Linked DNA regions of Homo sapiens. Changing the gene in region 3 together with the main gene of any one other region gives a genetic interaction. Each region holds a gene or a part of one and is shown on either strand. Other genes may lie near its edges.

What was found.
Region 1: of PEX11A (region 3) and DNM1L, changing one enhances a phenotype caused by changing the other (phenotypic enhancement), as found in Homo sapiens cells (one study listed by BioGRID).
Region 2: of PEX11A (region 3) and FIS1, changing one suppresses a phenotype caused by changing the other (phenotypic suppression), as found in Homo sapiens cells (one study listed by BioGRID).

What each region holds. Positions count from the first base shown.
Region 1 is NC_000012.12:32,673,872-32,684,005, reverse strand, and holds the start of DNM1L (dynamin-1-like protein), read right to left. Parts: upstream 4,706-10,134; 5' UTR 4,643-4,705; coding exon 4,541-4,642; intron 1-4,540. UniProt on the Homo sapiens protein: Functions in mitochondrial and peroxisomal division.
Region 2 is NC_000007.14:101,240,976-101,250,903, forward strand, and holds the start of FIS1 (mitochondrial fission 1 protein), read right to left. Parts: upstream 4,107-9,928; 5' UTR 4,030-4,106; coding exon 3,985-4,029; intron 3,165-3,984; coding exon 3,032-3,164; intron 1-3,031. UniProt on the Homo sapiens protein: Involved in the fragmentation of the mitochondrial network and its perinuclear clustering. Plays a minor role in the recruitment and association of the fission mediator dynamin-related protein 1 (DNM1L) to the mitochondrial surface and mitochondrial fission.
Region 3 is NC_000015.10:89,686,057-89,695,966, forward strand, and holds the start of PEX11A (peroxisomal membrane protein 11A), read right to left. Parts: upstream 4,699-9,910; 5' UTR 4,577-4,698; coding exon 4,521-4,576; intron 4,358-4,520; exon of another isoform or gene 4,292-4,357; intron 2,225-4,291; exon of another isoform or gene 1,821-2,224; intron 491-1,820; coding exon 375-490; intron 1-374. UniProt on the Homo sapiens protein: May be involved in peroxisomal proliferation and may regulate peroxisomes division. May mediate binding of coatomer proteins to the peroxisomal membrane. Promotes membrane protrusion and elongation on the peroxisomal surface.

The DNA.
Region 1 (10,134 bases), on a different chromosome or scaffold from region 3:
TTTGCAAATTAGAAATTAAAATCCAAATTACTGGCCGGGCATGGTGGCTCATACCTGTTATCCCAGCAGGAGGCTGAGGCAGGCAGATCATTTGAGGTCAGGAGTTTGAGACCAGTCTGGCCAACGTTGTAAAATGCTGTCTCTACTAAAAATACAAAAATTAGGCCGAGCACAGTGGCTCATGTCTGTAATTCCAGCACTTTGGGAGGCCAAGGCAAGTGGATCATGAGGTCAGGAGTTCGAGACCAGCCTGACCAACACAGTGAAACCCCATCTCTACTAAAAATACAAAAATTAGCTGGGCGTGGTGGCATGCACCTGTAATCCCAGCTACTCAGGAGGCTGAGGCAGGAGAATCACTTGAACTCGGGAAGCGGAGGTTGCAGTGAGTTGAGATCGCACCACTGCACTCCAGCCTGGACAACAGAGCAAGACTCCATCTCTAAAAAAATAAATAATAAAATAAAATAAAATCCAAATTATTTTTAGGCTAGGTGCAGTGGCTCACACCTATACTCCTAGCACTTTGGGAGGCCAAGGCAAGAGGATCATTTGAGCCCAGGAGTTTGAGACCAGCCTTGGCAACATAGTAAGGCAGCGATTTTAAATTTAAAAAAAAAAATTAGCCAGATGCGTGCCTGTAGTCCCAGCTACTCAGGAGGCTGAGGCAAGAGGACTGCTTGAGCCCAGGAATTTGAGGTTACAGTGAGCTATGGATTATGCCACTGCACTCCAGCCTGGGTGAAAGAGCCAGACCCTAAAAAAATAAAAATAAAAAATCCAAATTGTTTTTCCTTTTACATTTGTCTGAATTACTGAAGATAGAATGCTGAAATCACTGAAATAAAAGGAAAAGTGTAAAGTACATTACTAGGAACACTAAGCCAGAGTCTCAGGTTAATGTCATCTGTATTCGGATACCTATATTGGGTGGTAGTTTAGATTACATACCTGGAGGGCTCCCCTTTCCAATTCTTAATTTAAGAAATAGGATTAAATTTCCCAAGTTGAGTCACAAAAGTTGTTTTAAGTCTTATCTCCTCTACTTGCAAAGTTACACCATGGTCTAAAAGTATCATCAGCCTTCTCTCTCTCCCCACTGTGTCTGTTCATTTCACACAGATGGTCTCTACTAGAAAAAATAAAAGCAATTTATTTAGCTAACACATAAAACATGTGAATGACTGATAGCTGTAAACAGGATTCCCTCACCTCCACTCCTCCAAGTCCCTAGCCCCCAAATGAGTGTTACTTGGGCATTTCATAAAACCAAAGTTTAAAACATTTAGGGGTCAGCAATGGTTGCCTGGGAAGTGATATATTAAAGCAAGAATGCCACCAAAGTCAGCATGGTACTGGATGGTAGTATGCCATAGATTCAACCTCCCCTAATTTTCCTGCTTTTTCCAGTATCATGCATTTTAAAATCCAATGATTCACTAATATGTTTTTCAAATTAGGATCTAGGAACCATCTGTATCAGAATCACCTATGGTCCCTCACCCAACCCAGGCTTATAAAATCAAAATCTCTGGAGACAGGATCCAGGAAACTTAGTTTCAAAGTGATTCTTAGGCCAGGCGGGGTGGTTCACACCTGTAATCCCAGCACTTTGGGAGGCCGAGACGGGTGGATCACCTGAGGTCGGGAGTTGGATACCAGCCTGACCAACATGGAGAAACTCTGTCTCTACTAAAAATACAAAATTAGCCGGGCGTGGTGGTGCATGCCTGTAATCCCAGCTATGTGGGAGGCTGAGGCAGGAGAATCACTTGAAGCCGGGAGGCAGAGGTTGCAGTGAACCAAGATCATGGCACTGCACTCTAGCCTGGGCAACAAGAGCGAAACTCGGTCTCAAAAAAAAAAAACCAAAGTGATTCTTAATACACACTCAAGTCTGAGAATCACTGTTCCAAAAAGTTCAACAAGATAGAAACTGAAGCCATTTAAGGTATGGATAATATGTAGGATAGAGACTACACTTGAAGTTGTTTTTTAATTTTTTTTTGGAAGAATCAGGGTCTCACTCTGTCGCCCAGGCTGGAGTGCCATCGCAGAATCATAGCTCACTGCAGCCTCAAACTCCTGGACTCAGGCAATCTTCCCAAGTAGCTGGGACTACCGGCACACACTACACACCATAGCACCTGGCTAATTTATACCTGTATTCTGAAGACACAATTACTGCCGATAGGTATACTAGGCAGAACTAAGTACAGAACACTTATATGTCTGGAACTCACTCACTACAATTACTTCATTAAATATAAATGTGAGGTATACATATATGTTACACAACACCAAAGAGTAAAAATGGCAGACATCACAAAGTAATGGTATACTAGTATTCAAACCAAGAAGAGATTCTTGTTTCCCCAACACACTACAAAAAAGGCGGGGGCGGGGGGGCGGTGTGGGGAGAAAATAGGGGCGGGGGGGGCGGTGTGGGGAGAAAATAGTTTCTATTCTCTCTCTTTCTGCTGGGGTGCAGTGACATGCACTCCTGCACGCACCACAGCCTCAACCTCCCAGGCTCAGGTGATCCTCCCACCTCAGCCTGCAGAGTAGCTGGGACTACAGGTTCGCACCACCATGCCCAGCTAATTTTCGTATTTTTCGTAAAGATGGAGTTTCCCCACGTTGCCCAGGCTGGTCTTGAACTCCTGGAATCAAGTGATCTGCCTACCTCGGATAATTTCTATTCTGTATTTCTTCTGTACTTGAGTAAAAGACTGATTATCAGCTAATAAGAACTTAGATGGAAATAACCCTCATTAAATCAAGTAGAAAAACTGACCTCTTGAGAAATTTCAAACACCAACATGCAAATATAGCATATAACTGTCAGTACTAGGATGGTTTTTGCACATGTTAATGGCTTTCAGAAGGATGGGATCTTTACTTTTCTCTCCTGCCACTCTGTATTTTGCCAACAGGTTTACTGACCAAAATAAACTCTATTTTGTGTAAAAAGAAAAAAACAACTTATTGATTTTAAACTATTTATGCTGACACACTATATCCCTAATTCTTTTACTTCCTCATGCTTAAAAAGCACTGAGACTCTCTTTTAAAAGTATGTGGAAAGTTTCTAGTGTGCAGCTAGAAGACACTTCTGAATCACTTACTATCAAAGACTTAATTTATATTATCTCTAACTTTTTACAAAAACAGGTTAGTTTTGATGATAAAAGTCCCAGTGTTTTAAAACATTGTGGTTAGAGTGAGCAATATTTACTCAAAATATTTACAGAGCACTTACTATATGTCCCAGACTGAACAAAATTATGTTCAATAAAAAATAATCCTCGTAATTTGTTTGATGCTTCTGAGTCTCCAAACATTACAAATATTGTTACAAATACTAGAATACGTAGGCAAGATTGAGCAGAATCTTTCCCAATCCTATCGCAGACCAAGGAAATGTGTTTCTAAAACAATTTCTATTGCTTCAACTATTTAAAAGCCAAAAAAACAAACAAACAAACAAACGAGTACAGGGTGTCTATAGTTTCCAGTGTTTGGATAGCCACTAATACTTTGAACAGTAAGTTCCTTCTGATAGCACTTATACCCTATACTATGTACCTCCTGGAAAATGATGGGGAAACCGCTCCTTCTCAATAGAAAAGATACTATTAAGAAATGAAAGCACTTAATATCAATATACTAATTTCTAAAATCCGTTTCTCTGAACTCTAATCGAAGTAGCAGAGAAAAGGAAAATTATACTTCTCCTCTGTCACTCTAGAAATAACAGTTATTTTGCCAACATTTCTGCATTCAAAAAAAAATGAGTTAGCTATGAGAAGACCAGAGAAACTGATGCCCAATTTAGGTCACGATCACAAAACTGTGGAAGACAAAAAGCACAGCCTACGCAGAAAAATCGGATATTCCTTCCCAACACCCGCAGAACTCTAGATACACGTTTTGTTTTTCTTTTTTTAAAATGCTGCTTCGGCGTTCTCGAAACCTGGTGGAATTATACTGCAGGAAAACACTGGCGCTCACGCACCGTAGCGTCTCTCAGCCTCAACAGAGCGATTCCAAAACTAACTCCGCAGTCCCTGGGCAAGGCAAGGAGGGAAATAAAACACCCGTCTCACGAAAGCCAACAGTGATGGGAACAGCCAGCCCACCGAGCCCAGCGAGACCCGAGTGCCCCGCGCGTCCCCCAGGTGCCCTTGGAGGCAGCGGCACGCGGACGAGGCCGCGCCCGGTCCCAGCGGACTCCAGTTCCGCCCGCCGGCCCCATCCTTCCCTCTCCTGTCCCCGGGACCCGCCGGGCTAGCCAGGCCCGCCGCGCCGGCTCCGCCCCTGGCCGGGCCCCGGATTCTCCGCCTTGATGCAACGCTGCCCCGGGAGGGCGGGTGCGGCAGAGCCCGGAGAGCCCTGGGGCCCCCAGCAAGGCCCTCCTCCCACAGGCCCCAAAGGCTGGCGCGGGAGTGGGCGCTGGCGCGGGAGTGGGCACTGCCGCAGCACCGACCAGGCCTGCGGCCGGGGTCTGGCCCGAGCGAACGCCGCCTGCTGCTCTCACCTGCGTTCCCACTACGACGATTTGAGGCAGCTGGATGATGTCGGCGCCCACCGTGTTGAAGACGTCCTGGAGCTTGTTTATGACAGGAATTAGCGCCTCCATGACTCTGAAAACACGGGGCCCCAGTGCCCGCCGGCCACGGCAATGAATGGGGCCGGGGCCCACAGTTCGCCTCCTTCCTCCTCTCCTCCGCCCTCTCCTCGGAAGCCGGCACCCATTGGACCGGGCCCGCCGGCTACCTGCCCCCTCCCGGCAGGCCATGCGCTGCGAGGGAGGTGGAGAGGAGCAAGGCCTGCTGGGAGTTGTAGTTCTGGAGCGGAGGAACGCTACTCCCCACAGCTTCCAGGAGGCTGCGCGGCACCGGTGGGCCCTAGCCTGGGACTGGGATGCTGCGCAGGCTCTAGTCAAAGGCTAGGAGCAGGCCGGGAGCGCAGGAGGAAGGCCGTAAATTTATGCCTGTCCTCAAGGCACGATGGATGTGACAGTGCTGGGTGTGAATATGTGTTAAAGGCGCAATGGTGTGTCTCTTAATTATCCAGTGTCACTTCCTTTTATTTATTTTTTATTTATTTATTTTTTTTTTTTTTTTGAGACGGAGTCTCACTCTGTCGCCCAGGCTGGAGTGCAGTGGCGCGATCTCGGCCCACTGCAAATTCCGCCTCCCGGGTTCACGCCATTCTCCTGCCTCAGCCTTCGGAGTAGCTGGGACTACAGGCACCCACCACTACGCCCGGCTAATTTTTTGTATTTTTAGTAGAGACGGGGTTTCACTGTGTTTTCCAGGATGGTCTCGATCTCCGGACCTAGTGATCCACCCGCCTCGGCCTCCCAAAGTGTTGGGATTACAGGCGTGAGCAGTGTGACTTCCTTATGAAGACACTTTCTCTAGAAGGACGGGTTGGAAAGGCTTAAAGAAAAGCTTATGGCCGCAAACAACCAAACTGGGTGCAAAAAAATCTGCACGCTGATACGAGAATGTGTGGGGTGTTATTTTGCAAAAATACAAAAACCAGCCCAGGTTAGAATACGCGGGTTCTCCAGGGGTTTTGTAAACAAACAAACAAACAAACAAAATGTGTGTTCAGGACCGAGCGCGGTGTAATCCCAGCACTTTAGGAAGCAGAAGCAGGAGGATCGCTTGAGCTGGGAGTTCGAGACCAGCCTGGTCAACATAGTGAGACCTCATCTCTACCAAATAAATAAATAAATAAATAAAAAAGCAGGGGTCGGAGCAGCGGGGGGCGGTGTTCATGAAAAAAATCTTAGAGTATTGGAGTTTTACAGGGGAAGAGCTGGGCATTTATTATCAATATTATGTATAAACCTTTATTTGCTGTAGCCTGATTCCTGGCAAAGTAGACATCTGATAACTGCCTTACTCACTCTTTGCTCATACCGTTCTTTTTTTTTTTTGAGACAGAGTCTGACTCTGTCGCCCAGGCTGGAATGCAGTGGCGCAATCTCGGCTCACTGCAGCCTCCTCCTCCCAGGCTGAAGTGATTCTCCTGCCTCAGCCCCCCAAGTAGCTGTTATTACAGGCACCCGCCACCACCCTGGGAAAATTTTTGTATTTTTAGTAGAGACGGGTGGGGGGCGGGGTTTCACCATGTTAGCCAGGCTGGTCTCGAACTCCTGACCTCAAGTGATCCGCCCATCTTGGCCTCCCACAGTCCTGGGATTACAGGCCTGAGCCACCATGCCCGGCCCATACTGTTATATTTCTAAATGTTGTTTTTCTTTTTAGACAGATAGTATCCCTCCTCTACTCCAAACCTCCAAAGGTAAAAGTAAACCTCAAAGTAAAAAGGTGACATTTGAGTAAAGAATTAAAGCAGGTGAGGAGAGGCCAGGCACCGTGGCTCACGCCTGTAATTCCAGCACTTTGGGAGGCCAAGGCAGGCGGATCACTTGAGGTCAGGAGTTCAAGACCAGCCTGACCAACATGGAGAAACCCCGTCTCTACTAAAAATACAAAAATTAACCGGGCGTGGTGGTGCATTCCTGTAATCCCAGCTACTCAGGAGGCTGAGGCAGGAGACGGGCAGATCACTTGAGGTCAGGAGTTCAAGGCCAGCCTGGGCAACACGGCAAAACCCAGTCTCTACAAAAAATACAAAAAAATTAGCTTGCCTGTCGTGGTGGTGCATACCTGTGGCCCCAACTACTTGGGAGGCTGCAGTAGGAGGATCACCTAAGCTTGGGAGGTGGGGACTGCAGTGAACTGTGATCGTGCCACCGCACTCCAGCCTAAGTGACAGAGTGAGGCCCTGTGTCAAAAAAAAAAAAAGAGAAAAGAGAAAAGAAAACATAATAAGAGCACTTTTTCCAGTCTGAGCAAGAGGATAGAGATTCGAGAAAGACTTCCTAGAAGTTACTAAATTTAATCTCCATGAGGACAAGAACCACCAGCAGTAGTGGAAGTTGTGCACTACGCAACTCCAGTGGGTGCCATTCACCTGCTTAGCTGTACACAATGGCTGCGGGGAACATGCTTGATTTGTTCAGCAGGACAAATGGCAGGTGCTTAATAAATATCTGTGAACAAATGGATGAAGTAAGCCAAGACCTAAAGATCCATTAGTGGTGTTTTGGCATCTTGACAGGTTTTGTGAACATCTCCTCTTTGATTATTTTCAAAAAAAAAATTTTTCAGAGATAAAATAAGACAAAAATTTCAGAACTCCAAAAAACAGTTTTATTCCAAGTCTCTTGACTTTCTACCAAAGATAATATTACATAATAGTCAGATATTACCCACTTTGCTTCTCACCCCTCTGTTGATGGAGCTTTTGTTTTCTTCTAAAGAAAACAGAAGGCCGGGCACGGTGGCTCATGCCTGTAATCCCAGTACTTCAGGAGGCCAAGGTGGGCATATCACCTGATGTCGGGAGTTCAAGACCAGCCTGACCAACATGGAGAAACCCCATCTCTACTAAAAATACAAAAATTAGCTGGGCGTGATGGTGCACGCCTGTAATCCCAGCTACTCGGGAGGCTGAGGCAGGAGAATTGCTTGAACCCGGGAGGCAGAGGTTGCGGTGAGCCGAGATTGCACCATTGCATTCCAGCCTTGGCAACAGGAGCAAAACTCCGTCTCAAAAAAAAAAAAAAAAAAAAAGAGCCAGGCCCGGTGGCTCACGCCTGTAATCCCAGCACTTTGGAAGGCCGAGGTGGGCGGGTCACCTGAGGTCAGGAGTTCAAGACCAGCCTGACAAACATGGTGAAACCCCATCTCTACTAAGAATACAAAAAAAAAATTAGCCTGGTGTGGCGCGTGCCTGTAATCCCAGCTACTCGGGAGGCTGAGGCAGGAGAATCGCTTGAACCCGGGAGGCAGAGGTTGCAGTGAGCCGAGATCGCGCCACTGCACTCCAGCCTGGGCGGCAAGAGCAAAACTCCAACTAAAAAAAAAAAAAAAGAAGAAAAAAAACCAATTTCGGCTTTCATGTTTTAAGTTCAGAACACTCTTGTTTGTGGGAAATCAATTTAACTAATAAGTGGCTAAATGGATTTCCCACAAAAAAGAGTCTTTGTGCATCTAAGAATAATGTGTTCTTCAGTGGCTTCCTGTGGGAATCACATTAAACCATTATCGGATATCAAAAGGCCTTTAAAAAAACCTCTTCTCGGCCAGGTGCGGTGCCTCACACCTGTAATCCCAGCACTTTGGGAGGCCGAAGTGGGTGGATCACGAGGTCAGGAGATGGAGACCATCCTGGCTAACACGGTGAAACCCCGTCTCTACTAAAAATACAAAAAATTAGCCAGGCGTGCTGGCACGCGCCTGTAGTCCTAGCTACTGGGGAGGCTGAGGCAGGAGAATTGTTTGAACCTGGGAGGCAGAGGTTGCAGCAAGCCAAGATCGCGCCACTGCACTACAGCCTGGGCAACAGAGTGAGACTCTATCTCAAAAAAAAAAAACAACAACAACAAAAAACACCTCTTCTCCTGCAACCATCCCTCTCTCACCATAGCTTTATGATTTAGGCAGGATAGCTAATTGTAAGGACAGAAATTTAATTCTGAGCTAACTTGCCTCAAAAATGACTGAATGTCTGGGCGCAGTGGCTCTAGCCTGTAATCCAAGCACTTTGGGAGGCCGAGATGGGTGGATCAGTTGGGGTCAGGAGTTCAAGACCAGCCTGGCCAACATGGTGAAACCTCGTCTCTACTAAAAACACAAAAATTAGCTGGGGGTGGTGGTGAGAGCCTGTAATCCCAGCCACTCGGGAGGCTGAGGCAGGAGAATTGCTTGAACCCGGGAGGCGGAAGTTTCAGTGAGCCAAAATCACGTCACCGCATTCCAGCCTGGGTGACACAGTGACACTCCACCTCAAAAAAAAAAATGACTGGAACTAGGAGCTCAGGCAGAATCAGAGCTCTACATCTTATCACTACATCGTCTATTTCATTCTCTCACGCAGTTTACTCCTGTGGAATGAGGTGAGTGTGCTGTGGGGGAGGGTGTAGGGGATCTCATTCAGCAAGCTGTCTCACAGCAGATGAGGCAGAGAGAACTGGGGAGGAACTGAAACCTAGGAACCTGGTTTCTGCCTTGCTTCTCTAGTATATTAGTTCCCTATTGCTGCCTTAACAAATTACCACAATTTTAGTGGCTTAAAACAACAAAAATGTGGCCAGGCGCAATGGCTCACTTCTGTAATCCCAGCACTTTGGGAGGCCGAGGCGGGCGGATCACGAGTTCAGGAGATTGAGACCATCCTGGCTAACATGGTGAAGCCCTGTCTCTAGTAAAAATACAAAAAATTAACCGGGCGTGGTGGCGGGTACCTGTAGTCCCAGCTACCCGGGAGGCCGAGGCAGGAGAATGGCGTGAACCTGGGAGGCAGAGCTTGCAGTGAGCCAAGATCACGCCACTGCACTCCAGCCTGGGCAACACAGTGAGACTCCATGTCAAAAAAAAAAAAAAAGTATTGTTTTACAGTTCTATAGTTCAGTAGTCTCACACAGGTCTCACTGGACTAAAATCAAGGTGTCACCAGGGCTGCAAACCCTCCTAAAGCCTCTAGCAGGGAATTCACCTCCTTGCCTTTGTTAGGGGCCCCCTGCATTCCTTGCTGGTTACCTCCTTCCAACCTCTTCAAAGCCAGCAATGTCGCATCTCTTTAACTCTTCTGCTGTCATCAGGCCTCTGACCCCCAGAAAAGCTTCTCTGTGTTTAAGGGCCCATCATTAGATTGGCCAACCTGGACAACCCAGGATAATATCCCTGTCTCAAGGCCTGTACCCTTAATCACATCTACAGAGTCTCTCCTGAGACATAAAGTTCACAGGCTCCAGGGATTAGGACATGGACTTATTGGAGGGGCCTACTGCACCTGGTTAAGGTGATTGGTCTAGGGATGGACCTGCAGGACCATTTAGAATCCTTCTCTGAGAATTTCCTAACCTGAATTTGAACAAAAATATTTTCTCTCTCTGGTTATAGAACTGTAAGCATGTGAGTCAATGTCTCCAAAGATCATGTTTCCTATCTCATGGAATAAATTGGTTTGCAAGAATAAACTTCTTTATTCACCTTGAAGAACTTCCCCAAATTCAGTAACTTACCCATATATATACATATATATATA
Region 2 (9,928 bases), on a different chromosome or scaffold from region 3:
GGCCCCTTCCACTCTCTGAATGCCTCTGTGATCCTGGGAGGGTCACAGTCCTAAGCCTCCCTTTCAGCTCCAGTCACTCCCAGCACCCTAGCCAGAGCTCTGGGACAGGGTGAACCCCAGCTGTGCCAACACCCCAGTGACAGAACATGCCTTTTATCAGTATTACAGTCAACTGGTCCATCCAACTGAAATGAGGAAATCGGGGCCCTGGAGAAGCCAAAGGCAGCGTGACTCAGTTTTGGCATCTGCTGTGGTATTTTTTTTCAGACGGAGTTTCACTCGTCGCCCAGGCTGCGGTGCAATGGCGTGATCTCGGCTCACTGCAACCTTCGCCTCCTGGGTTCAAGCGATTCTCCTGCCTCGGTTTCCCGAGCAGCTGGAATTACAGGTGCCCGCCACCACGCCTGGCTAATTTTTGTATTTTCAGTAGAGATGGAGTTTCACCATGTTGGCCAGGCTGGTCTCAAACTCCTGACCTCAAGTGATCTGCCTGCCCTGGCCTCCCAAAGTGCTGCCGTTGTGGTTTTAACTAAACTGCCTGCTGTACAATTATTGTTTAAAAAAAAAAAAGTTAGGACTCCCTCCCCCTTTAAAAAAATCAGCTCAAAACTCACCTTCAATCAGCCTTCCCCGAAGACCCCACCTGACTTTGTCTTCCTTCCTTTTTTTTTTTTTTTTTTTTTTTTTTAAAGAGACAGGGTGGGCCGTGAGCCGTAGCTCATGACTATAATCCCAGCACTTTGGGAAGCTGAGCCGGGCGGATCACCTGAGGTCGGGAGTTTGAGACCAGCCTGACCAACATGGAGAAACCCCGTCTCTACTAAAAATACAAAATTAGCCGGGCGTGTTGGCACATGCCTGTAATCCCAGCTGTTCGGGAGGCTGGGGCAGCAGAATTGCTTGAATGCGGTAGGCAGAGGTTGCGGTGAGCCAAGATTGCACCATTGCACACTCAGTCTCGGGAAAAAAAAAACAAAAAACGGAGACAGGGTCTCGCTCTGTCACTCCAGTCTGGAGCACAGTAGCATGTCCATGGCTCACTGCAGCCTCAAACTCCTGGGGTCAGTGATCCTCCTGCCTCAGCCTCCCAAGTAGCTGGGACTATAAGCACACACCACCATGCCTGGCTAATTTAAACATCTTTGTTACACAGACAGGCCAGGTGGTCTCAAATTCCTGACTTCAAGCCATCCTCTGGCCTTGGCCTCCCAAAGTGCTGAGATTACAGGCATGAGCCACAGTGCCTGGCCCCACCTGACTTTCTTAATTCAGAGACTTCCCAGAGGATAACTGTACTGTATGCACTAGAATTTGTTGCTAAATAATTCTGCAGGTGTTTATAAATCTTCCTGTCTGTACTGTTTTCTCAACTAGACTGGCAACACTTAGAGAGGCTGTTTCTTCTACACCTACACCCTGCTGTAGAATAAACCTGAAAATCTGAATTGCCGAAGTAGACAAACATAGGGTAAAATTATTTGTATCTTTTAAGAAAGAGTCTTATTTTTATAGTTTTTTTTTTTTTTTTTTTGAGACGGAGTCTCACTGTGTTGCCCAGGCTGGAGTGCAATGGCGTGATCTTGGCTCACTGCAACCTCTGTCTCCCGAGTTCAAGTGATTCTCCTGCCTCAGCCTACTGCGTAGCTGGGATTAAAGGTGTGCGCCACCAGGCCCAGCTAATTTTTGTATTTTTAGTAGAGACAGGGTTTCACCATGTTGATTAGGCTGGTCTCGAACCCCTGACCTCGTGATCCGCCTGCCCTGGCCTCCCAAGGTGCTGGGATTACAGGTGTGAGCCACTGTGCCTGGCCATTTTTATAGATTTTCAATAGGCATCCTTTGCTAACACAGTCAGCATTCTGTATTCATAGATTCAACGAACCATGGATCAAAAATACTCAGAAAAAAAAAAAAGATAGTTGCATCTGTATTGAACATGAACAGACCTTTTTTTCTTGCCATTATTCCCTAAACAATACAGTATACTATTTACACAGCATTTACATTGTATTTGGTATTATAAGTAATCTACAGATGATTTAAAGTATATGGGAGAAGGTGCACAGGTTACATGTAAATACCATGCGATTTTATATACGGGACTTGGGTGGCTATTGGTATCTGTGGGGGTGGGGTTCCTAGAACCAATCCCCCATGGCTACAGAGGGATGGCTGTACACTGACTGTGTGCTTATAAATGATTATTTGAACACAAGGAGCTACAGAGAAACTAAGTGGTTAAGTATTGTGGCCTCTGACAAATGATGACCCACCTAAAACCAATAGGAAATAGGGTTCCCATCCAAAAAGCACTATCTGGCTGGACGAGGTGGCTCACACCTGTAATCCCAACACTGTGGGAGGCCGAGGTGGGCAGATCACCTGAGGTCAGGAGTTAGAGACCAGCCTGACCAACATGGTGAAACCCTATCTCTACAAAAAATACAAAAATTAGCTGGGCGTGGTAGTGGGCACCTGTAATCCCAGCTACTCAGGATGTTGATGCAGGAGAATTGCTTGAACCGGGAGGTGGTGGTTGCAGTGAGCTGAGACAGCGCCACTGTACTCCAGCCTGGGGGACAGAGCAAGACTCCGTCTCAAACAAAAACAAAAAACAAAAAGCACTATCTGCTCACAATTTTGTAGGACAGTCCTCTGTACCTCTTCCATGCCACAAAAGATTCTCAATAGCTGCTAAGCAACACGGTGGTGGTGTTGGGGGGAAGGGCATGGGCCTAGGTCTCACAAAACAGGAGCTTCTAGTCCCAATTCAGCCATTAACTGATTAGTTGGGTGACCTCAAGTCACTTTCCCAGATCAAGACAGTCCTGGGGGAACTGACATGCTACACTCTGTCTGGCAAAACAATGGTGGGCGGTAAGTAGCCAAAAGTTCACTGGGAGACGTCAAGCTAAGTATAGCCCTTGGTGCAGTAAATCTACCGGAGACAACTCAGAGGTGCCTGGACTACGGGGCCCACATCGCAGAGCAGCCCAGATGGCAGCGGGAAAGGGAGAGTACAGCGCCTCACCCTCGAGCAGCACGATGCCTTTACGGATGTCATCATTGTACTTGCTCCGCACCAGGCACCAGGCGTACTCAAACTGCGTGCTCTTGGACACCGAGCCTGCTGCCTTCTCAGACTGAAATTTCTTTTCAAACTTCTGCCACAGGGGAGGAAAGGAATCATTTAGAAATGTAGGGCGTCAACCATTCTCTATCTGGACATGCCATCTCCCTGGCTCTGCCCCTTTCCCTCGCAGGTCTCGGTATCTGGCACCCCAGCTTCTGCTATCTCCATGCCCGGGACCCAGGCTTTCGGCTCCTCCGGGCCTGCGGGCCAGCTCTTGGGACAGAGGCCCCCGGTCTCCCCTCCCCGCGGCGGTACCGAGCGGAGATGCCACCTGGTGGCAGCTCCAGGCACCGCTCCCGGAGCAGCTGACCCCGGCGGCCGAACAGTAAACACGCTGTCAGAACTGCTCAACAGCCCACGCGGTCCTCATTTGAGGCTGCTGGCCCCATCCTGCCCCACCCTGCCGGGCCTGGACCTTTTATTGTCCAGGAATAGAAGTAGTGCCTACCTCCTAGAGCTACAAAGACTGAGATCTGGCATGCGATGCCTTAGCACCGTGCCGGACGCAGTAATAGGTGACACCTTATGATGGTCACTGTATTCCTCCACCGCTGGAGGAGCGCCCTGAGCTCACAGCTCCTGCATGATCCCAGATCCCGTCAGTCTAACCACGGTCGGGCTCCAGGCCCGTAGTCTGAGGTGTGGGGGGCTCAGGACACTACAACTCCCAGGAGCCTCTGCGGCATAGCAGGCCCTCCGGGCAGGAGCCAGGCGCTGTGGAGGCTGCCGGGAGCCGTAGTTCGGCTTCCCTCGGCCAAGCCGATGCCGGGAGGAGGGTTCGGCCCCTACCTGACTCTCCTCAGGACCCGCCCTCCGACCTTCCCTTTCCCTCTGTCCGGGCCAGGCCTCACCAGCAGGTCCTCCACAGACACCAGCTCGTTCAGCACGGCCTCCATGGCCACTGCCCCCGCGAGCCTCACACTACAGTCTACTGTGCCACAGTCTCCATGGCCCAGTGGCAGGGGCGGAGAACCACTTCCGGCGTCCGGCGGATGCTGGCACGACCTGGCGACGCCCCGCCCCTTCCTCTCAGTTCAGCAGCGCCGGCGGGGCGCTAGTGCGCAGGCTCGGCCGGTCCCTCCAGCCCGCAGACTGCGCGCAGGGAGACCTTCCCCAGGTTGGTCTTCCCAGGTGCCTCAGCCGGTGCCTTCCTCTGTGGAGGCTTCCCTAGGGAAACTGGAGGCCATGTCTTGGCGGTTAGCCCCCAGGATGAAAACAGCAAAAAGAGGGTGGGTAGCTGACCAGAGATCACAGTACATTAGGGTGCCAAGCTGACGCCCCTCAGAAATCTAGGACCTTGGAGGCCACGTGACTATTCATCGCCTGCAACAAAATCTTAACTAGAACCGGGAGCCCGGCGCGTAGCTCACGTCCGAAGCCCAACAACTTGGGAGGCCGCGGCGGGAAGATCGCTGGAGGCCAGGAGTTCAAGACCAGCCTGAGCAACATAGCGAGACCCTATCTCTACAAAATTTTTAAAAAAATCAACCGGCGTGGTGGCGTGCACCTGTACTCCCAGCTACTGGGGCGGCTGAGGCAGGAGGATCGCTTGAGTCCGGGAGTTCGAGGCTGCAGTGAGTTATCGCGCCACTGCACTCCAGCTTGAGCGACAGAGACCTTGTCTCAAAAAACCCACCAACAGCAGCAAACTAGTATCGGGGTTTCTTGGGCCTCTGCTGACTCTCACAATGCAAGAGCAGAGGCAACTGGATCTGTAAACCACACAGCCACACAGGGGTAGTCATAGGAGACACTATCAACGGGAAGTTTTTCAAAAAGCAACGGCCCCATTATTGGCAGAGAAGGTCCAATTTTCAATATTATTTACATAAACCATTTTGGGAGTGCACCCCAGGCGGGAAACCTGCCACATGGGGTCACGGGCAATGGGGAGCTTAGCAGTGAGGAGCTATCAGAGCATGGGAAGGAGAAAGGTGTGGACACCTCTGGCTTCAGTTTCTGTGCAGTGAGGGGACTGGGTAAGTAGCAACTTTCAAATTCTTTTCCCCTTGAGTCACATTGGAGTGTAAGTTCCTTGAGGGCAGAGACTTACCTTGCTTATCCAGCATCTAGCACAGGGCTTGGCAGAGAGTGAGGGCTCAATAAATATTTGTTGAATAAACACGGAAAAAGCAAATTAATTGTAAACAAGGCACTGCACATGCAGGGGATAATCATCCAGACACCTTCCGCGTTTGCAAAGCCCCTTTAATTTTTATTATTTTTTAGAGACAGGGTCTCATTCTGTGGCCCAGGCTGGAGTGCATGCAGCGGCACAATCAGAGCTTACTGCAGCCTTGACCTCCTGAGCTCCTGTAATCCTCCTGCCTTAGTCTCCCAAGAAGCTGGGACTACAGGTGTGCACCACCACACCCAGGTTGTTTTTTGTTTTTTGTTTTTTTTTTCCGAGACAGTTTCTCGCTCTGTCACCCAGGCTGGAGCGCAGTGGCACAATCTCGGCTCACTGCAACCTCCGCCTCCTGGGTTCAAGCGATTCTCTTGCTTCAGCCTCCCAAGTAGCTGGGATTACAGGCGCCGGCCATCACACCCAGCTAATTTTTGTATTTTTAGCAGAGATGGGGTTTTACCATGTCAGCTAGGCTGGTCTGAAACTCTTGACCTCAGGTGATCAGACTGCCTCGGCCTCCCAAAGTGCTGGGATTACAGGCGTGAGCCACCGTGCCCAGCCAAGCCTCTAATATTTTTCTCCTCATAATAGTCTCGTGAGTTAGAAAGACAAGAGTTATTCTTCCCTATTTGGCGTGGATGGTTGAAATGACTGATACAGTAAGCTCTGTAAGCCTTGAGAGAATCCCCAGGTTGGGGAACTGGCTGCCCACTAGCATAAGCCTCAAGGGGAAAACTTCATGTTCATTCAGAGAAGTATACAGCACCTAATTTTGCCTGGGCCTTGGGGTGGCACAAAGGACACTAGGGCTGAGTGCAGTGGCTCACGCCTGTATTCCCAGCAGTTTGGGAGGCCAAAGCGGGTGGATCACCTGAGGTCAGGAGTTCGAGACCAGCCTGGCCAACATGATGAAATCCCATCTTTACTAAAAATACAAAAAATGCACCTCTGCCCAGCCGCTGTGCAACCTTCCAAGTGTGAAGTGACAGCCTTGTATGTGATCTTTCTGCCCTCCCCAAGTTTGCATTTTCAACATTAAAGTTTACTTTTTAATTAAAAAAAAAATATATATATATATATATGCACACAAAAAAAATTAGCCGGGTATGGTGGTGGGTGCCTGTAATCCCAGTTACTTGGGAGGCTGAGGCAGGAGAATCGCTTGAACCCAGGTGGTGGAGGCTGCAGTGAGCCGAGATCCCATCACTGCACTTCAACCTGGGTAACGAGAGCGAAACTCCATCTCTAAAAAAATAAAAAATAAAAAAGATGGACACGATATGAAGCAGGTGACTGAAAACAGGACTGAAGACGGGAGGCAAACACTGGCAGGGCAGGGGACACAGGAAGATGAAGGGGGCACTCCTTCTATTAGGAGGCTCCTTTTTGGGGGGCAGCCTGAACCACAGTCATGTTTATATTTGCTGCAGCCCTTGGTAGAGGCCTGGTGCATGGCAGAAGCACCATCAGGATTTGCTGAATGTCAACAAGGGATGAAGGGAGAGTGATTTACTCAGGTGGCTCAGTTGTGTGCCAATGAAGAGATCCGTAGTCTGTAGCTTTTCAAGTCTAGTTAGCATAGTCATCCACCTCCGACATAGTGATAGAAAGTAGTCCCTGTTAATTTTACACCCAATGGCTGAGCGCGGTGGCTCACGCCTGTAATCCCAGCACTTTGGGAGGCCGAGGCGGGCAGATCACGAGGTCAGGAGATCGAGACCATCCTGGCTAACATGGTGAAACCCCGTCTCTACCAAAAATACAAAAAAGAAATTAGCCGGGCGTGGTGGCGGGCGCCTGTAGTCCCAGCTACTCGGGAGGCTGAGGCAGGAGAATGGCGTGAACCCGGGAGGTGGAGCTTGCAGTGAGCCGAGATCACGCCACTGCACTCCAGCATGGGTGACAGAGCGAGACTCCGTCTGAAAAAAAAACCCTTTCATGCCTTCTCATTGCCCTTAAAACAAACACAGCCTTCAAGGTCCGTTAGGATCTAGCCATGCTTAATTCTCTTCCTCATCTATCACTACCTCTCCTGGTATGTACTATGTACACTGGCCCTATAGGCCTTCCTTCAGCTCTCAAACCCCTGGTGGCCACAGCTCCGCTACACAGGCAGTCCTCTCTGTTTGGAACATCTGTCTCCTCCTCCATTGCTTATTTGGCTCATTCATTCCCTCATGATTTAATTCATTCAAGAAATACTAATTGAGCTCCTGCTGTGTAGTAGGTGCTCAATTAGTTGCCTACAAATAGTAGCCTGGCACAGTGTAAGCCAAGGTGGAGCTTACATTTTCATGGGGAAAACAGAAAAAAATAACTCAACAAATAAAAGCACTGTGACATAATAAGACCTATATATTTGGGGCCAGGCCCGGTGGCTCATGCCTGTAATCCCAGCAGTTTGGGAGGCCGAGGCGGGCAGATCACCTGAGGGCGGGAGTTCGAGACCAGCCTGACCAACATGGTGAAACCCGTCTCTACTAAAAATATAAAAATTAGCCGGGCGTGGTGACAAGCACCTGTAATCTCAGCTATTGAGGAGGCTGAGGCAGGAGAATCGCTAGAACCCAGGAGGTGGAGGTTGCGGTGAGCACAGATCGCGCCATTGCACTCCAGCCGGGGCAATAAGAACGAACTCTGTCTCAAAAAAAAAAAATATATATATATATATATACATATATACATACACACACATATATATATTTGGTCTCTGCCCTGGTTCCCAACACAAAGGTCCTAAAATCCTTGTAATTTCCTGAGTGATAGAAGTAATAAGAGCATCTTTTTTTTTTTTTTTTTGGAGACAGCGTCTCACTCTGACCCCAGCTTTGACTGCAGTGGCGGGATCCTGGCTCACTGCAGCCTCGACCTCCCAAGTCAGGCGATTCTCCCACCTTGGCCTCCCAAGTAGCTGGGACCACAGGCACACACCACTACACCCGGCTAATTTTTGTATTTTTTTGTAGAGACGGGGTTTTGCCATGTTGTTCAGGCTGTTTTGTTGCCCAGGCTGGTCTGGAACTCCTGAGCTCAAGCAATCCGCCCGCCTTGGCCTCTCAAAGTCCTGGGATTACAGGTGTCAGCCACGGCGCCCGGCCAATAAGAGCATCTTACACAGAGCTCCAAAATCCCTTGCAACATCCTGAGTGACAGGAGTGCCTTTTCTTCTAATGAAGTGACTCGCTGGGCTCCTGGACAGCATCAGGATGAGGGCTGGTCACCAGGAAGACCAAGCCAGGATTTGAAGTTTAGCCTCTTAAGCTTGAACTTTTAGCCTCCCCCCTCATCCTTTGGGGAAGAGAGAGGAGCTGGAGATTGAGTTAATAATCGATCATGTCTACGTGATCAAGCTTACATAAAAAGCCCTTAACTTGGCTGGGCACAGTAGCTCACACCTGTAATCCCAGCACTTTGGGAGGCCGAGATGGGTGGATCATTTGAGGTCAGGAGTTCGAGACCAGCCTGGCCAATATGGTAAAACCCTGTCTCTACTAAAAATACAAACATTAGCCAGGCAAGGTGGAACGTGCCTGTACTCTCAGCTACTCGGGAGGCTGAGGCAGGAAAATCGCTTGAACCTGGGAGGTGGAGGCTGCAGTGAGCCGAGATTGCACCACTGCACTCCAGCCTGGGCGACAGAGCGAGATGCTGTCAAAACAAAACAAAACAAGGCAGGCGCAGTGGCTCACGCCTGTAATCCCAGCACTTTGGGAGGCCGAGGCGGGCGGATCACCTGAGGTTGGGACTTAGAGACCAGCCTGACCAACATGGAGAAACCCCGTCTCTATTAAAGATACAAAATTAGCCGGGCATGGTGGTGCATGCGTATAATCCCAGCTACTTGGGAGGCTGAGGCAGAAGAATCACTTGAACCTGAGAGGCGGAGGTTGTGGTGAGCCGAGATTGCGCCATTGCACTCCAGCCTGGGCAACAAGAGCGAAACGCTGTCTCAAAAAAAAGAAAAGAAAACAACACAAAACAAAACAGAACAAAAATTACTCCTCTGGGAAAATGATGAAAGAAAAAAAATGGAAGAAAAGGAAGACATGAAGATATTCATTCCTGCATTATCTGTGAAGGTAAACAAACAACAAAAATGCCAGGGAATGGTTTTATTAAATGATAATACATCAATATAATGGAATAATATACAGCCTTAAAGTCACAGTCACATGGATTCTATGCCTGTGGACAGTAATACTCAAAACAAAACAAAGAAGTATCTACTTCTCAAATTCAGACAGGTGGGTGAGCAGAAAGGAAACTGACATCTTAGGTTGGTGAGACTAAGACCTAGAACTGGTGTATATGGGCAGATTCTGGGCTCTGGACCCCTCCCTGGAGTACACCAGCAGCTGGGGCCTATTTTGCACTTCCCGCTTCAGCCTTTTGCACAAGAAGGGCTCAGCAAACACCCGCTGAACAGGATTCCATATTTGCGTTCTTCCAATTTTCAGTAATCTGTCTCCTCTACTTCCCAGTTCCATCTGCTATCCAGTTAGAAAGTCCTGTCAACTATCAATTAATTCATTCACCCATCAAAACATTTAAGAACCTACTATGTTTAGGAGGCTGAGGTGGGAGGATTGCTTGAGCTCAGAAGTTCGAGACCAGCCTGGGCAACACAGCGAGACCCCAACACTAAGTTAAAAATAAATACATAAAAA
Region 3 (9,910 bases):
TCTAGGATATAACTATTCCACTCTTGTTTAGAATAAAGGGGCTCACAGGAGCAGAAGCTCATGTCAGAGACTGCTAAAACATACTATGATTCTAAGAACTAAAGGTGAACTAACACGTTGTCTGTCTCACTGGTTATGATTCAGCAGAAAGATAAGGTGTAGCACCAGATGTGAACATAAGAGGGTGTTTATGAATGGTCTGCAGCAACACATTCAAACCTGTTGTGCCATGAGGACAGCCTTACTGGTCAATTTCACCAATAAACTTGATTGACTAGAAATTAATGACCTAGAAATTACTCCGTGAATTACAGGGTCTGAGGCTGAGGATTCTAAACCAGGAGTCACTGTCCCTCAAGAAACAGGGTACTTACATTTACGACCAGTGCTCACACTGGACTCCAGTTTCTTGAGCTTCATTACCACCTTCTCTTTGCCAGCTTTGGGCTCTAACAAATATCTAAGCAACATGCATGTGTACTGAGTGGCTCTGAAATGGAAAAAAAAAAATTGAGAAGAATGATTTACAAACCAAATAAAACTTAATTCAGGAAGTAAGGGAAAGAGAAACACATGCCTCCAGACAACATTTCCAAGACCATTTCTCATGTAGCAACTCTTACAAAAGCAAAATTCTGCAACAGTCATTCTACAGGAGAGCCAAAGGGTAGAACATGTCATGGAAATTTAACACAAAGGTAATGAAAACAAATTCTGCAATAATGCAGCCAATGTGCCTCCAAAAGGCCTTTTGCTGGCACAGAGAAATGGATATAGTCAAAGTGAGAAACTGTACAAAATCTCCCTCATGTTAAGTCTACAAAGATCCATATTCCTTCTCTTCCCCAGTGTAGATTTCTTTCTTTGTTTTTTTTTTGTTTGTTTTTGATCGAGTCTCGCTCTTTCGCCAGGCTGGAGTGCTGTGGTGTGATCTTGGCTCCACTGCAACCTCTGCCTCCCTGGTTCAAGCGATTCTCCTGTCTCAGCCTCCCGAGTAGCTGGGATTACAGGTGTGTGCCACCACGCCCAGCTAATTTTTGTATTTTTAATAGACACGGGGTTGTGCCATTTTGGTCATGGCTGGTCTCGATCTCCTGACCTCGTGATCTGCCCTACTCAACCTCCCAAAGTGCTGGGATTGCAGGCATAAGCTACTGTGCCTGGCCTGATTTTCAGATTTCTAAAATGAACTTTTCTACCATGTACTTAACCTACCATCTATGTGACAGGACACAAACTCAAACCAGAACCAAATGAAAAGTCCACAGTTTAAAGATTGTTTAATTTTTTATAAACGAAAGGACCAAATACACATCAGTACATAAATTAGTATAAATATGTTTTCATAGTTGTCTTTCAAAACTTATTCGTATTTTACATAAAATACAGGCAGAATCCTGCTTAATAATACTATATATTTAATAAAGTGATTATTGTCATGCTTACAAATAACAATGACTTACTAATATAAATGTAGGAGAAATTTTACATCACATAGTCACACATCCAAATCCATTTGGCAATCTACTAATAAAGTAGGTGCCTGGTTCCTACTGTCTTGTAAGTGCATTTGAATCCCTTTATGCTATAAATATTATTCTCAATAAAAATGCGGTACATTTTCATTTTCTAAAATAGTGAACTTGTTACTAGGAATGAAATAAAAAGAGAAGACTGGAATCATAAACAATCGCTTTCTCTTTTTTAAGTGTCCTTCCTGGTTACAGGACTGGTCATGTCAATGATTCTGCCTTTCTGAGCTTTGGTCTAATAATAAGGATCAGGCCAACAGTAAGACATTACTTTTATTTATTTATTTTTGAAGTGAACATAAACTCGATTTTATTGTCTTCATAATAAAACAAAAGATGATACTTAGAACTGGATCACTTGGCCCTTTCTCTTCTTATCTCCTCCCAGTTCAAAATGCTGGCATCTTTTAATAGCCAGGATTCTCTTAGATCTTCACTGGGCTCAACACACTCAAGCTTTAGCACAAACTTCTTGGTAGTTTTAGACTTTTTCTGGAAAATCGGCTTAGTCTGCCCACCACAGCCACTCTGCTTCCTGTCATAATGCTGCTTTCCCTGGGCATACAGAGAATCCTTGCTCTTCTTGTACTATGTCACTTTGTGGGGTTGGTGCTTGCCACACTTCTTACAGTCTGACAGGTTTTAGGAATGTTCACCGTGTTTGCATGAGCATTATTGGCACAGAAAGCAAGGTATTATTTTATGAATGCCAGTGTGGTCATAAAGGTTATACAGATCATCAAGGAGGTTGGGAAATGAATGCTAGAGATCTCAGATCTTTTGGAATAAACATATCTTAAATTATTATTATTATTATTTTTCGAGACAGAGTCTCGCTCTGTTGCCCAGGCTGGAGGGTAGTGGTGCGTTCTTGGCTCTCTGCAAACTCCGCCTCCCGGATTCAAGCGATTCTCCTGCCTCAGCCTCCTGAGTAGCTGGGATTACAGGCATGTGCCATCACGCCCAGCTAATTTTTGCATATTTAGTAGAGATGGGGTTTCACCATGTTGGCCAGGCTGGTCCCGAACTCCTGACCTCATGATCTGCCCACCTCAGCCTCCCAAAGTGCTGGGACTACAGGTGTGAGTCACTGAACCCGGCCTAAATGATGATGATTATTATTTTTAATGTTTTTATTTTTTTTTTAGAAGGAGTCTCGCTCTGTTGCCCAGGCTGGAGTGCAGTGGCGTGATCTTGGCTCACTGCAAGCTTTGCCTCCTGGGCTCATGCCATTCTCCTGCCTCAGCCTCCTGAGTAGCTGGGACTGCAGGCGCCCACCACAACGCCCAGCTAATTTTTGTATTTTTAGTAGAGACAGGGTTTCACCATGTTAGCCAGGATGGTCTCGATCTCCTGACTTTGTGATCCGCCCACCTCAGCCTCCCAAAGTGCTGGGATTACAGGTGTAAGCCACTGCACCCGGCCTAAATGATTATTTTTTTAACCAACTTCCTTGATAAACCCTGCAGGGTACATTCTAGGTACACTGGAATTACAGGTTTCTATTTAATGAAATTTCTATTTAATGAAGCTTGTATATAAAGTAACCATTTAAAAAACCTATCAAACTAATGAGAAAGCCAGTATAGCTTGGTAGTTAAGTGGGCACTGGAGTCATTTGCGTGGATGTGAATCCCTCAGTTCTGCCATTGTAGTACCTATTAACCTCTTTCTGCTTCAGTTTCTCCATCTGAAGTGGGTAAAATATTTAGAGTATCTACCTCATAGGGTTGTGATGAGGGTTATATAAGTTCATAGTTGCAAAACACTGGGAACAATAGCTGTCATAAAGATGGCTTCCAAAAGCCTCATTATTGGGGCCATTCTAATTGATCTGTTTGTATCAGCACTTGCACACCCAGAAGAGAATGCAGAGCTGTTAAATAAAACTGCAACTGTAAATATTTTTTCATTAAGCAAGAATCAACCAAATCTCTAAAACATCATGAACTAGTACTGTATTCGTATTAAAGATACAATCTCTCAGTTCTTTTCGTTTCTTATGGAACCAAAAGAAAAAGAGACACAATCTCTGTTTAATATTTTCAGTAGCACAGCATGAACCTTAGAGGTGCAGTTAGTTCTTTCTGAGCTTCTCCCCACTGTATTTCCCCCCAATCCAGTTGGTGTGGTCTCATCCCCGCTATATTTTGTTTTACAATTTACAAAACTATTCCACATGCAGTATCTCAATGATACAGCCTGGGTAATAATGGAAGAGAACTTCTGTCTCTCCTCAAACATTTCAAGAGGTATTTGAGACCGGGCGCGGTGGCTCGCACCTGTAATCCCAGCACTTTGGGAAGCCGAGGTGGACAGATCACCTGAGGTCAGGAGTTCGAGACCAGCCTGGCCAACATGGCGAAACCCCCGTCTCTACTAAAAATACAAAAAGTAGCCGGGCGTGGTAGTGCACGCCTGTAATCCCAGCTACTCAGGAGGCTGAGGCAGGAGAATCGCTTGAACCCGGGAGGCAGAGGTTGCAGTGGGCCGAGACCGCGCCACTGCCTGGGCGACAGAGCGAGACTCCGTCTCAAAAGAAAAAAAAAAGAGAGATATTTGAAGTCACACCAAGTGGTTTGCTTCCCTAGCCACAAATACTAATCCAAAGTTTCTCTTTAAAGGAGATCCCTCGGAAGAATGTTGAGTGGAGAGAACCAATCTTTCTGTGCCCGGAGAGCAAAGTTAGGAGGGGAGGAGGATCTGTCAGCCGGTGTCCCGTCGTCGGCGGTCTCGAGGCGGCTAGGGTGCCAGGCACTGGGGCTTTCGTGCACGGGGCTAGGACGGGACGCGGGTGCGTTGGGCCCACTCACGTTGAATTTAGGGTAAGGAGGGGCTCGGATACTAAACTCCCTCCGTAGGAGCTGGCAACGTCCTTCCTGCTTCCATCTACTAGGCTATCACCTCCTTTTTCCCGGGTGCAGGGGAATAGGCACGGGAGCCGAGTTAGGGCGAGAAAGGGGCGGAGGCCGCTGGCACCTGACTCACCTGAAGAGTCGGTCCCGGCCCTGGGTCTGGTTGGTGAAGCGGGTGAAGGCGTCCATGGCTTCTAGCCCAAAGGCCACGAGTCGCACGGGGCTCAGGCGTGGGTCCTCTGGGGCCCGTCGGATCCCCAGGGAACGGTCAGTCCCAGGTTATCCGCTGAGGGGGAGGGGCTGAGTCTCTCCGCCCCAGAGGGGGCGGGCACACTTTCTGTAGAGCAACTTCGCGGACTTCCGGTTCAAGCCGGAAGTTGTGGTTACCAAGGCGACGCAACGCCGCCCGGCCAGGTGAGCAAAACTGATCTTACCTTTGGATGCCGGGGCTCCCCTCGAGTCCCAGGACTCCCCTTTACCTGTAGAGTCTCCTAGAGGAAAGTCTGAGGGGGTCCGTCTCCCCAGACTCGGGCGTTTCCGGATGCCTGACGCCTCCCCGCAGATCTCAGGTTCTCAGGAACCCGGGGTGATATCCCGAATGGTCTCTCCAGCCTCAGAACTCCCCTGAGCTCTTGCTTGGGACGGTGGGGCCTAATCATTTCCCAGCGCCGTGCCTCTTTCCCTTGAGCTACACCAGCTCTATGTCTGGTGAAGGAAGTGGTTAGGTCAGAGATAAGCCAATTTCACAGTGTGAACCTAGCATGGGAGGCGGATGAAGTGAGAAAATGTTCTGCTTGGATTATTGAACATTGAAAGAAGATTGTTACCTGAGGAAATCCTAAAAGAGTCATTATGAGCAAAGTGAAGCAAAAATAGATTGCAATGAAATTGCACCGCTGAACATTCGTTCTGTGCGGCTTGAAGAAAAGGAGCCTTACCCACTCCGTGGCAGTAATTTTATAAAATGTACCCTCTATAACCACAAAATAAGGTCGGCCGGTGCTGTGGCTTACGCCTGTAATCCCAACACTTTGGGAGCCGAGGTGGGCGGATCACCTGCGATCAGGAGTTGGAGACCAGCCTGGCCAACAGGGTGAAACCCCGTCTCTACTAAAAATACAAAAAAAGTAGCCGGGCGTGGTGGTGGGCGCCTGTAATCCCAGCTACTCGGGAGGCTGAGGCAGGAGAATCGCTGGAACCCAGGAGGCGGAGGTGGCAGTGAGCCGAGATTGTGCCACTGCTTTCCAGCCTGGGCGACAGAGCGAGACGCTGTCTCAAAAAAATAAAATAAAATAAAATAAGGTGAACATTTTCGTAATCTTTATTCCCTTGGTCAGGCCAGCTCCTAACATTTGCAGGCCCTGGGTAAGAGTACAAATGGAGTCCAGCACACCGTATGTTTAAATATTTTAGTTATAAATCAAGCAACAAATTGTAAAGTAAAATATAGTCTGTTTTCCTACATTGACAAATAGACCCTCATAATGATGTAGAAGGCCAGGTTCATCTTCAGAATCCCTAGACTCCTTAGAATACCTGGAAACACAGCTGGAATATGGCAGTGTGGGGAGAAATGGCTCCCAGTCTTTTCCCACTTCCCTTTCTTTTCTGGTTTCTGGTGCCCACCTGCATTCCCTGCCAGGAGCCTTGTATACCATCCTGATACTCCAAGCCACATCCAACGTCTGCCCGTACCTCTGCAAGCAGCCATGCCTTTGCCACCTTTTCAGATCGAGGAGTGCTCACATTAGCAGCTGGGTCTGCCCTCAGGTGAAAGCTGAGAAGGGCTCATGCAGGCCATGGTGTCATTTGGGCAGTAAATTCCAGGGGTATTGGTACCCTGAACATGGTCTAGACTCCAGAAGAGGGAAACTAGGCTTTGGGTGAGCATATCTCCTTGGCCCCATGGGTTACTCATTTTTTGTAGAGGAAAGAGCCTCGAAGAGAGCCAGAAGTTTTCTCTAAATACGTGGCCCAGGTCAGGGCAATTCTGCAAGCAATGAGAATTTATTGAGTCCTGGCCATATACCAACCACTGTGCTAAACTCTAGTCGTAGGGTAATAGGTTAACAAGGAACACAGTAAACTGATAAGTACAACACAGAGATATGTTAGATGATAGAGGTGAGCACAGGGTGCTTCTAAACACAGATGTGTATCATCTGTTTTTTGTTTTTGTTTTTGAGACAGAGTTTTGCTCTTATTGCCCAGGCTGGAGTGCAATGGCGCAATGTCAGCTCACTGCACCCTTCGTCTCCCGGGTTCAAGCGATTCTCCTGCTTCAGCCTCCTGAGCTGGGATTACAGGCATGCGCCACCACGCATGGCTGATTTTTTATATTTTTAGTAGAGATGGTGTTTCACCATGCTGGTCAGGCTGGTCTGGAACTCCTGACCTCAGGTGATCCACCTACCTCGAGCTCCCAAAGTTCTGGGATTACAGGTGTGAGCCACCACGCCTGGCCTCATCTGTTTTTTATACCTACAATTCTGCCTTTTTCACAATATCATATAAATTGAATCATATAGTATGTAGCGTTTTCTTTTCTTTTCTGATTTATTTTACTTAGCATAATGCATTTGAGATTATCTATGTTGTGCACATCAGTAGTTTGTAATTTTTTATTCCACAATGTGAATGTATTATAATTCATTATCCATTCACCCACTGAAGTACATTTGTGTTGTCTCTAATTTGAAGCCATTATAAATAAAGCTGCTATAAATATTTAAGTACAGATTTTGATGTGAAACATAAGTTTTAATTTTCCTACTGTAATATGCAGGAATGTGATTGCTGAAACATATGGTATGTTTAACTTTGTAAGAAACTGCCAAACTGTTTTCCAAAGTGGCTATCCTATTTTGTATTACCACTGACAATGCGTGAGAGCTTATCTGTTTGCCTGTTGGTGGACATTGGGTTGTTTCCACTTTGGGGCTCCTACAAATAAAGTTGTAATGACTGTTCGTGTACAAGTCTTTGTATGGACATATGTTTTCAGTTCCCTTCTACCACTCCTAAGAGTGGAATGACTGGATATGATGGTAGATAATGTGTTTAACTGTCCTGCAGGGGACAGGCCTATGCAAACCTACCCCTAAAAGTCTGAGAAAGCTGAGAGGCCAAAGCAAGAGGCTGACATACCCAGTTTCTCAGAAACAAACATTTAATAAATAAATACAATTTAAACAAACAAACAGAAGCCATGTCTCAGGAGCAAGACAAGATGGTGGATCCCTGCCATTATCCACCAGACCCAGGGTTTCTGTGCTATAGAGAAAGGTGCTTCAGAAGGAATGTGTAAGATAATTGCTTAAGGACAGAATTTATGGCAAGAATGATAACATCAAGGTTGTTTTGACCTAAGGGCAATATTTACAGTAAGTGGTGCTCTTACACAAGGAATGAGTCAAATGGAAATCTTAGAGGTTTTTCTGGAACTGGGGATAATCAGAAGTTAACATGGAGGATTAGCATCTAAGATGGAGTTGCTTTGGCCTCCACATTAGCGTTTTAAGAAATTGCCAAACTGTTTTCCAAACCAGTTGTACTATTTTGGTTTCCCAATAGTGTGTATGAGCATTCTTATTGTACATCTTCAACAACACTTTCATGGTCTATCTTTTTAACTTTAGGCATTTTAATATACGTGTAGTGGTATCTCATGATTTTAATTTGCATTTCACAAATGACTAATGATGCTGAACATCTTTTTATGAGTCTATCTGCCATCTGTATATCTTCTTTGGTTAAGTATCTGTACAAATTTTTTGCACATATTTAAAAATTGTTGGGTTATTTCTTTTTTTTTTTTTTTTTTTTGAGATGGAGTCTCGCTCTGTCGCCCAGGCTGGAGTGCAGTGGCACGATCTCGGCTCACTGGTTTCACACCATTCTCCTGCCTCAGCCCCCCGAGTAGCTGGGACTACAGGTGCCCACCGCCATGCCCAGCTAATTTTTTGTATTTTTTAGTAGACATGGGGTTTCACCATGTTACCCAGGATGGTCTCGCTCTCCTGACCTCATGATCTGCCCGCCTTGGCCTCCCAAAGTGCTGGGATTACAGGCGTGAGCCACTGCACCCGGCCGGGTTACTTCTTTTATTACTGAGTTTTGAGAGTTTTAAAAATACTCTGGACAAAAGTACTTTATCAGATAAGTGACTTGCACATATATTTTCTCCCCATCTGAGGATTACCTTTTATTCTCTTAACAGTGTGTTTTGAAGAAACACAAGTTTATTTTTGAAAAGGTTTAAATGACCAGTTTGTTCTTTTTAGGTTATACTTTAATGTCATATCTAGGAAATCTTTGTCTAAGAGAAGATTGCCAAAGTTTTCTTCTAGAAGTTTTATAGTTTTCAGTTTTACATTTAGGTGTATGATTTTACTTTGAGTTAATTTTTGCATATGGTGCAAGGTATGGATCGGCATTCATTTTTTTCCTATATAGATATCTAATTGCTCCAGCATTATTTGCTGAAAAGAATATCCTTTTTCCACCGAATTGTCTTTGTGCTTGTGTCAAAAATAAGTTCTCCATATATGTTTGCATCTAATTTAGGACTCCCTATTTGATTTCATTGATCTGTTTGTTTATTTTGATACCAATACCACACTGTCTTGAATATTGTAACTTTGTGATAAGTCTTGAAATTAAGTAGTGTTAGTCCTCCAATTATGAGTTGTAAAGTTAGCTTCTTAATTTCTGGAAAAAAAAAAGCCACCTGGGATTATCATAGGGATTGTGTTGAATTTGTACATGAATTTGAAAAGAATTGACATTTTAACAAAATTGAGTCTTCCAACTCATAAATAAGGTATCACACTCTCCATTTATTTAGGTCTTCTTTAATTTCTGTCAGCAATATTTTATAGTTTTCAGTATGTGGGTGGGTGTTTTTTAGAGAGGGAGTTTCGCTGTATTGCCCAAACTGGAGTGCAGCAACATGATCATAGCTCACTGCAACCTTGAACTCCTGGACTCAAAGCAATCCTCTCACCTCAGCCTGCTGAGCTGCTAGAATTACAGGTGCAAGCCACCTTGCCTAGCCCAGGATACAGGTTTTATATATCTTTTGTCAGATTTATCCCTAAGTAGTTCATGTTTTTGATACTGTTGTAAATGGTATTTTTATTTCAATGTTTGGTTTGTTATTGCCAGTACATAGAAATACAATCAGTTTTTGTATATTGAACTTGTATCTTACCACCTTGCTCTCCTCATTTATTAGTTCTAGAAAATGTTTTTGTAGATTTCCTCAGATTTCCTATATAAGCATATCATCTGGAGATAAAGACAGCTTTATGTTTTTCTTTCCACTGATGAAGTAGTTCCATCACTCCAAAAAACTCCCTCATGCTGTCCTTTTTTTTTTTTTTTTTTTTTGAGACAGAGCCTCACTCCGTCACCCAGGCTGGAGTGCAATGGCACAATCTCAGCTCACTGCAACCTTTGCCTCCCAGATTCAAGCGATTATTGGTCCTCAGCCTCCTGAGTAGCTGGAATTACAGGCACACA